Linked DNA regions of Homo sapiens. The protein of the gene in region 1 purifies or fractionates together with the protein of each later gene. This does not show direct contact. Each region holds a gene or a part of one and is shown on either strand. Other genes may lie near its edges. The genes, in order: DYNLT5 and ITPR3.

Evidence for each region.
Region 2: the proteins of DYNLT5 (region 1) and ITPR3 purify together in Homo sapiens (affinity purification with mass spectrometry; one large-scale study listed by BioGRID and IntAct). This does not show direct contact.

What each region holds. Positions count from the first base shown.
Region 1 is NC_000001.11:66,750,937-66,754,849, forward strand, and holds the start of DYNLT5 (dynein light chain Tctex-type 5), read left to right. Parts: upstream 1-1,522; 5' UTR 1,523-1,648; intron 1,649-3,719; 5' UTR 3,720-3,722; coding exon 3,723-3,841; intron 3,842-3,913.
Region 2 is NC_000006.12:33,683,509-33,687,321, forward strand, and holds part of ITPR3 (inositol 1,4,5-trisphosphate-gated calcium channel ITPR3), read left to right. Parts: intron 1-511; coding exon 512-660; intron 661-848; coding exon 849-957; intron 958-1,089; coding exon 1,090-1,180; intron 1,181-1,265; coding exon 1,266-1,435; intron 1,436-1,850; coding exon 1,851-2,025; intron 2,026-2,134; coding exon 2,135-2,319; intron 2,320-2,544; coding exon 2,545-2,745; intron 2,746-2,900; coding exon 2,901-3,011; intron 3,012-3,500; coding exon 3,501-3,596; intron 3,597-3,717; coding exon 3,718-3,813.

The DNA.
Region 1 (3,913 bases):
GTAAATGTTTTTTGTTCATAATTTTCCCAATCACCTATTTCACAAAATCCTGAATATGCAATTATTTATTATGACACGTTACTGCAACTAGGGCTCCCATTCCAGAACAAAGTTTAATTCTATATGTAAGTTGTTACTGAAATGTGATTTCTTTTTCTGGAAAATAAATGAAAAATATGAAAATAAATTGAATTGTGAATATCTTTTGCTGTCAGCCTCTTAAAATTTTACCCGCATTTCTGGAAAACTTCATTCCATGTTTAGGGTAGGGATGGTGGGCCAAAGGTCTGTCAAAGGTCAAGGGTTAAGAGTTAGACAAATTTCAGCTCTGTGATTTAAATATCGACTTGAGCATGTTACTCAACGATTCTACATTTCCTTATCTTAAAAAAAAATAGAGTAATGTCCCCTATGTCATAGTCACTGAACAAATTCAATGAGATAATGTTTATTCATCACCTAGCAGTTCCTATCTAGTCCATAGTAGATATTCAATCAACAATCCTTTCCTGTTCTTATCTTTCTGTGAGTAGAGATTGGGATGGGCAAAAATATCTATTTCTCTTCTTCCAACACTATCCTAACACTGTGCTCCACCGGAATCCCAATGTATTACTGTCAGCTAATGCTAATTCCAGCAGGACACTCATCAAGAGCCATGCCCTTGGCTAGATGCTTGGAGGCATCTTGTTTCTGCTTCCAATGATTGCCCACTACAGGAGGGTCCCTATAGTGTTTATTTTGTTTGCTTTTGGTTTGGGGAGGCCCAAACCAGGCTTAGGCTGGGGATAGTCGCTGAAGAAGAGGAAAAGCCCATTCATACCAGCAGGTAGGTCCTCAACCCCAAACAGCCTCATTTCAAAGCTTCTTAGACATTAACAGGCTCAGAAGAGTCTTGTTAAGGAAAGCGAAGGAACCCAGCCCGGTTTGTAACACATTGGAGTTAAGACCATGAGTTTCAGGGGCCTTGGGCATATTATTTAACATTTTAGAATCTCAATTTTCCAAATCCTTTAAAGGGAAAACATTCCTTTCTTGACAGAGTTATTGGGACGACTAAATCCCAATGTTTGTCGGTATCTGGGGTATCTGGCCAATGTAAGTGCTCATTTACCTCCACATTCCACCGCCTGTGCCTTGGAGGGGGAACGTGCGAAGCAGCGTTAGGAGCCGGGAAAAGGGCAGGGCTACTTTACTTTGTCTTTGCGCTTCGGATTTCCTGTGCTAGGAAACCGCAGCACTTCCCACTCCTGCCCCTGATGTCTGCGGGAAAAGGAACTTGATGAGGGGCCCTAGGGGTGCAAATGTCTTTAGTCCCAAATGTCTTCCTCGCTACACAATGAACCAGTTCCCCTCCAGCTCGCCGCCAACCCAGGACGCAGCCCGGCTCAGAGTGACCCCCAGTGGGCAGTGAAGATGAGATCCTCTACATCCTTAGGGCAGCTCAGAGGGCCACTCAGCGGCCAAGTCCGGCCGGGGAGGGCCGAGGGCTCTGTTTGAGGTCACCCTGGAGACCGGCCTCAGAGTCCAGGGAGAGTGCGCGGGCGGCCGCCGGCTGAATGAAGCCTGGGACGCGGGAGCCGCGCCGCGCGCAGTGTCTGCAGTGCCGGAGGTCTGGGAGGCTCCGGGCGAAGCCTCCCTGCTGCAGGTAGGGTCGCCTCTCTCTGCAGCGCGTCTGGACCCCAAAGGAAGGATAGGGGGCAAGGGATCGGCCCTTTGTTGAGAAATGGCCCTACTTGGCCCCGATCTCTCCGCCACCTTATTCCTCCTCTCCCCAACACATAAGAAAAAATGATCCCAAATTTGGGAACTGAAAGTCGGTCCCAACGGTTCGTCCCCTGCCCCATTGCATGGCTGGGGGCTGGGCTTCAAGAGTGATGGCCAACGCAGAGCCGGCCAGCAAGGTCATCCCCTGACCCGGGGCGGTCTTCCTGTGGCTGGCCGCACCCATGAGGACCTCCAGGTCCCAACTCTGGCCTTTCTTGGGGAGGGGGCGGCCTGCAGGGCAGCTTTGGAAACAGCTGAGGCCGAGATGGGTCTATGTGGCTTTGCAGCAAAACCTGAATGACCCACCTAATCAGGCTGTGTGTCTTTCCACACTCATAAACACACTCACCTTCGTACACACGAACACAGACACACTTATACACACAGGCACCTGCACACACAGAGATGCACACTCACAGGTACACACTCAAGGACGCTCACACTCACGTGCACACACACACCACGCTGCCTGCCTCACCCACACACAGCACCTCTGCTCTGACATTGATGCCACTGGGTTTTAGGGTATGTTCTTGTGTGCCCTACCTACTCAACTGCCAGCTCCTTGAAGGCATGGATTCTCTTCTATTTTTATGCTTTGGTGTCTAGCACAGTATTTCCTTATCGGGGCTCTCACATTTATAGATTATGAAATAATTTAAATGAATACTTAAATTTGTAGGTAGACAATGAGGGCATTATTAGAGTTATAGTCCAAGTTCTGGGAAGTCCATTGCTACTACCAGCTTTTTAACAAGTATTAGTAGGAAGGAGGGAGTTTTCCAATAAATTATTTATTTAAAAGTTAAGTCCTATTTGCTCTTTACAAACTATGTAAATGTTGCTCGAGAAAACAAAACAAACAACAAAAAATCTTTGGGAAAGCAAGGTTAATTTTAATTTTTATTTATTTATTTATTTTCTAGCTCCCTACCCCTAATTTTATTTTTTAAAGTCATGGTGGGTCAGGCACAGTGGTTGATGCCTGTAATTCCAGCACTTTGGGAGGCCAAGGCAGGAGGATCACTTAAGGCCAGGAGATTAAGGCCAGCCTGGGCAACACAGAAAGATCTTGTCTCTACAAAAATGTTTAAAAATTAGCTAGGCATGGTGGTGCAGGCCTGTAGTCCTAGCTACTAGGGAGGCTGAGGTGGGTGGACCGCTTGAGCCCAGGAGTTTGAAGTTACGGTGAGCTATGATCATGCCACTGCACTCCAGCCTGGGTAACAAGAGCTAGATCCTGTCTCTAAAATAATAAAATAGGCCAGGTAGAGTGGCTCATGCCTGTAATCCCAGCACTTTGGGAGGCTGAAGCAGGATTGCTTGATCCCAGGAGTTCAAGACCAGCCTGGGCAACATAGACCCTATCTCTACAAAAAATTAAAAATTAGCCCAGCTTGATGGCATACACCTGCAGTCCCAGCTACTCAGGTGGCTGAGTTGGGAGGAACGCTTGAGCCCAGGTGTTTGGGGCAGTAGTGAGCCATGATCATGCCACTGCACTCCAACCTGGGTGACAGAACAAGACCCTGTCTCAAAAATAAAATATAACAGTGACAGCAAATATTAATTAGCAAAGTTGTATTATGGTTACATTTGGGGGGCAATACAAATATTGGTTTCTGATGTAGGATAGCATCTTTCTGCTATACATGCATATCTTTTGTCAATGACCTCCGTCTTCATCAGCTAAGCATTTTTGCTATAGCTTAATATCTGCTTATGTAAATAATTATACTATTGCATAAATAAGCATTTTCAGAGTTATCATAGTTCCAGTTTCACTGATCAGAATAACAACAAATTCTATATATTGCTCTTGAGGAAACCCCACTTTCCTGTTCAAAAATGGTAGGAAAACTATCTGTGTACTTTGAGATTAGTCCCTGTTATACTAACTAAAATGTTTCCGGATCTTTCTTTTGCTATTTTACAAAAGTCTTCTTCCATAGGTTATGATGATGTCAGACAATGCTAAAGGCAGAGCAGCTCATTCATGGAAGAAAAGAGGGAGTATTTCTTCTCTAAGTAATCATGAATTTTGGCGAAAGGAAATTCATGGGCGCATCAAAGAGTGAGTAACTGTCTAAAATTGTAAATTCATTTATTGAATAAATAGGTTCGTAATGTTTATTAGGAGAAAAAA
Region 2 (3,813 bases), on another chromosome or scaffold:
ACTTCCAGGAAGGGGCTGGTTGGCTTCTCTACACTCTGGGGCTGCTAAGGGCCGACCCAGCAGCAAGGGACTGGGGAACCTCCTTCCAGAGGAAGCCTGGAGAACCCAGAGGCCTGCTAGTGGGGTTGGAGCTCATGAGGGGGTCGGGACCACCCCTCACTCCTGCAGCGCCCTCCTGTCTATGCAGCACATTTCTGTGCGCTGTCTCGTTGGCCTGTAGAGGGGGTGTGGTGGATTATTTTCCCCACGTGGCAGGAGACTGAGGCTCAGAGAGGCTAAGGGGTTTGCCCAAGGTCACACAGAGCTGGGAGAGAAGCCAGGCTTGGCAGCTCCCAGCCAGGGCTCTGAGCAGACAGACATCACGCTGTGTTCAGGGTGTCTCTGTGGGTGTGGGCCCCTCAGACAGAGGCAGGGCAATCTGTGGGGCTGTTTGGCGTTTGGGTCGGAGGAATGGCAGTCACACCCGGGTCATTTCTTGGGCCTGGCAATGACTCTGCCCTGCCCACCCCAGGACATCATCACAGCCCTGGAGGAGCGGCTGAAGCCCCTGGTACAGGCTGAGCTGTCCGTGCTGGTGGATGTCCTGCACTGGCCTGAGCTGCTCTTCCTGGAGGGCAGTGAGGCCTACCAGCGCTGCGAGAGTGGGGGCTTCCTGTCCAAGTGAGCGAGACACTGGGGCATGGGGGCAGCAGGGGTGCAGCGGCAGGGGACAGAGAAGGGCCCGGTGGGGACTAGACAGGCTCACTGGGTCAGAGGGCCTGGGGGTGTTCCTGCCTGGGATGGGGTGGGGAAGTAGCTGGAGGGAGGCAGTGTGGGGCTGCCCTGAGCTGCCTCCTTGGCCGGCTCAGGCTGATCCAGCACACCAAGGACCTCATGGAGTCGGAGGAGAAGCTGTGCATCAAGGTGCTGCGGACCCTGCAGCAGATGCTGCTCAAGAAGACCAAGTACGGGGACCGGGTGAGTGCCCTGGTGGGGCAAGTGCTGGGTGGGCCAGTCAGGAGTACCCAGGGGCTCAGGGTCAAGCCCGTCAGGCCAGTGGTCAGTGGTGGGCTGTACCCACAATGGGGCCTCACTCCCATCCTCCCCCAGGGCAACCAGCTGCGCAAGATGCTGCTGCAAAACTACCTCCAGAACCGGAAGTCCACCTCGCGGGGGGACCTTCCCGACCCCATAGGCACTGGTCAGTATCACCTTCCCCTGCCCCCGGGCCCTCCCTTCCACTCTCCTGTCACACCAGCTCTCCCTCAACCGAGTCCCGCCTCCAGGCCTGGACCCAGACTGGTCGGCAATCGCAGCCACCCAGTGCCGGCTGGACAAGGAGGGGGCCACCAAGTTGGTATGCGACCTCATCACCAGCACCAAGAACGAGAAGATCTTCCAGGAGAGCATCGGCCTGGCCATCCACCTGCTGGATGGTGGCAACACAGAGATCCAGGTGTGGGGGGCCTGGGGCCTGGACATGCCCTCCTTTGCCTCCCTCCCTTTTTGGAGGAGGTGGGCCTTGAGTTGGGCACTGAAGGCCGAGGAGGGTGTGAAAGAGGAGAGGCCTGAGCAGTGGCTGAGAGGTGAGAAGAGTGGGCATGATGGGGGCAGGGTGGTGAGGAGACGGGCTCAGGCCTGGCTGGGGCAGAGGGGTATGCGGGGGTGATGAAAGGACCACGTGACACAGGAGCAGATATGGGGCATGGAGCCGCCCATGGGTGGCCATGGATGCTAGCCACCAGCACCCAGGCCTGCAGCCAGGCCCCTGCAGCCCCAGCGGCCCCAGCAGTGTGGTGTGCCTGCCCCACGCCCTGAGTAGGAGCAGGGCCCAGTGCTGAGGTTGTTCCCTGGCCACTGTCCACCTCCAGAAATCCTTCCACAACCTGATGATGAGTGACAAGAAGTCAGAGCGCTTCTTCAAGGTGCTGCACGACCGCATGAAGCGGGCCCAGCAGGAGACCAAGTCCACGGTGGCAGTCAACATGAATGACCTGGGCAGCCAGCCACATGAGGACCGCGAGCCAGTCGACCCCACCACCAAAGGTCAGGGGTCTGAGGCAGAGGCACGGCGTGACGGGGATCCCAGGATAAGATGTGCAGGGGGGTGGCCAAGGGGGTGGGCAGCTCCAGCCTCACCAGGTCTCGCCCACAGGCCGCGTGGCCTCCTTCTCGATACCTGGCTCCTCATCCCGCTACTCGCTGGGCCCCAGCCTGCGCCGGGGGCACGAGGTGAGCGAACGTGTGCAGAGCAGTGAGATGGGCACATCCGTGCTCATCATGCAGCCCATCCTGCGCTTTCTGCAGCTGCTGTGTGAGAACCACAACCGGGACCTGCAGGTGAGTGCCTCGCCACACACCTGCCCCTTCCCCCGCTGGCCAGCCGGCATGCAGACTAGGCAGTGTGGCTGGTGTCCCTCTATGGCAGGTGTGCCCTGCCCTGGGCACTGCTGCTTTGTGGCTGGTGGTTCCCCTACCCCTGCAGCACACAAGATCGTGCTTCCCAGGCCAGCCTCCCTCTCCGTGCTGTAGCTGTGCTGTGCCCAACCCTTCTGTGCCCCGCAGAACTTCCTGCGCTGTCAGAACAACAAAACCAACTACAACTTGGTATGCGAGACGCTGCAGTTCCTGGACATCATGTGCGGCAGCACCACGGGCGGCCTGGGGCTGCTGGGGCTCTACATCAATGAGGACAACGTGGGCCTCGTCATCCAGACCTTGGAGACCCTCACTGAGTACTGCCAGGGCCCCTGCCATGAGAACCAGGTGAGCTGTCCTGGTGGCATAAGTGGCAGCCAGGGTGGCAGTGTGGACATGTGGGTAGATGGAGCCAGCTGGGGCAGGGAGAGAGGCTGAGGTCTCTGGAGCTGCCACTATTCTGAGAGGGCCTGGGCCCTGTGTCCCCCACTGCCTCCTGCCAGACTTGCATTGTGACTCACGAGTCCAATGGCATAGACATCATCACCGCACTGATCCTCAATGACATCAGCCCCCTGTGCAAGTACCGCATGGATCTGGTGCTGCAGCTCAAGGTGGGGCCCAGTGGCAGGTGTGTGAGTGCTGGGTGTGCATGTGATGTGCATGCATGTATGTGTGACTTGTGTGTCAAGTGTACATAGTGGTGTGTAATGTGGGTGTTAGCATTGTGTGATGGGGCATCATCTGGATGCACAAGTGTGTGGTGTGTGCAGGGTGTGTGTGTAATATACGCATGTTTAAGCATGCTGGAACATACACTCACTCTGGATGCAAATATATTCTGGTTTAGCTGAGGACTTGCTATGTGTGTGTCTGCTGTCTGGGTAGCTGAGTGTTTGCCACAGCGGGGGTGAAGGCAAGCCTATGGGTGGGCTGGCTGTGCAGGATGCTTCTCATTAAGCCGGGGGGAGGGAGGATGGGAAGGTCATGGCACCTGACCTTTTGTTGGATGGGAGAGCTGTTATGGAGAGGAATGAGGGAGAAGTTGTCAGGGGCATGGTGTCCTGAGACTGTGGCCTGCCTCCCTCTGCCCCTCCACCCAGGACAATGCCTCCAAGCTGCTCCTGGCTCTGATGGAGAGCCGGCATGACAGTGAAAATGCTGAGCGAATCCTCATCAGCCTGCGGCCCCAGGAGCTGGTGAGGCTGGGCAGGTGGGCAGGCGGGCGGAACCAGGTGGAGTGTGTTGGGATGGGGATGAGGGCCCGGCTGGCCCTACCGCCCTAGGAAGAGAGCATTGGAACAGGCACTGCCCCTCCAGGTGGACGTCATCAAGAAGGCCTACCTGCAGGAGGAAGAGCGTGAGAACTCGGAGGTGAGCCCACGTGAAGTGGGCCATAACATCTATATCCTGGCG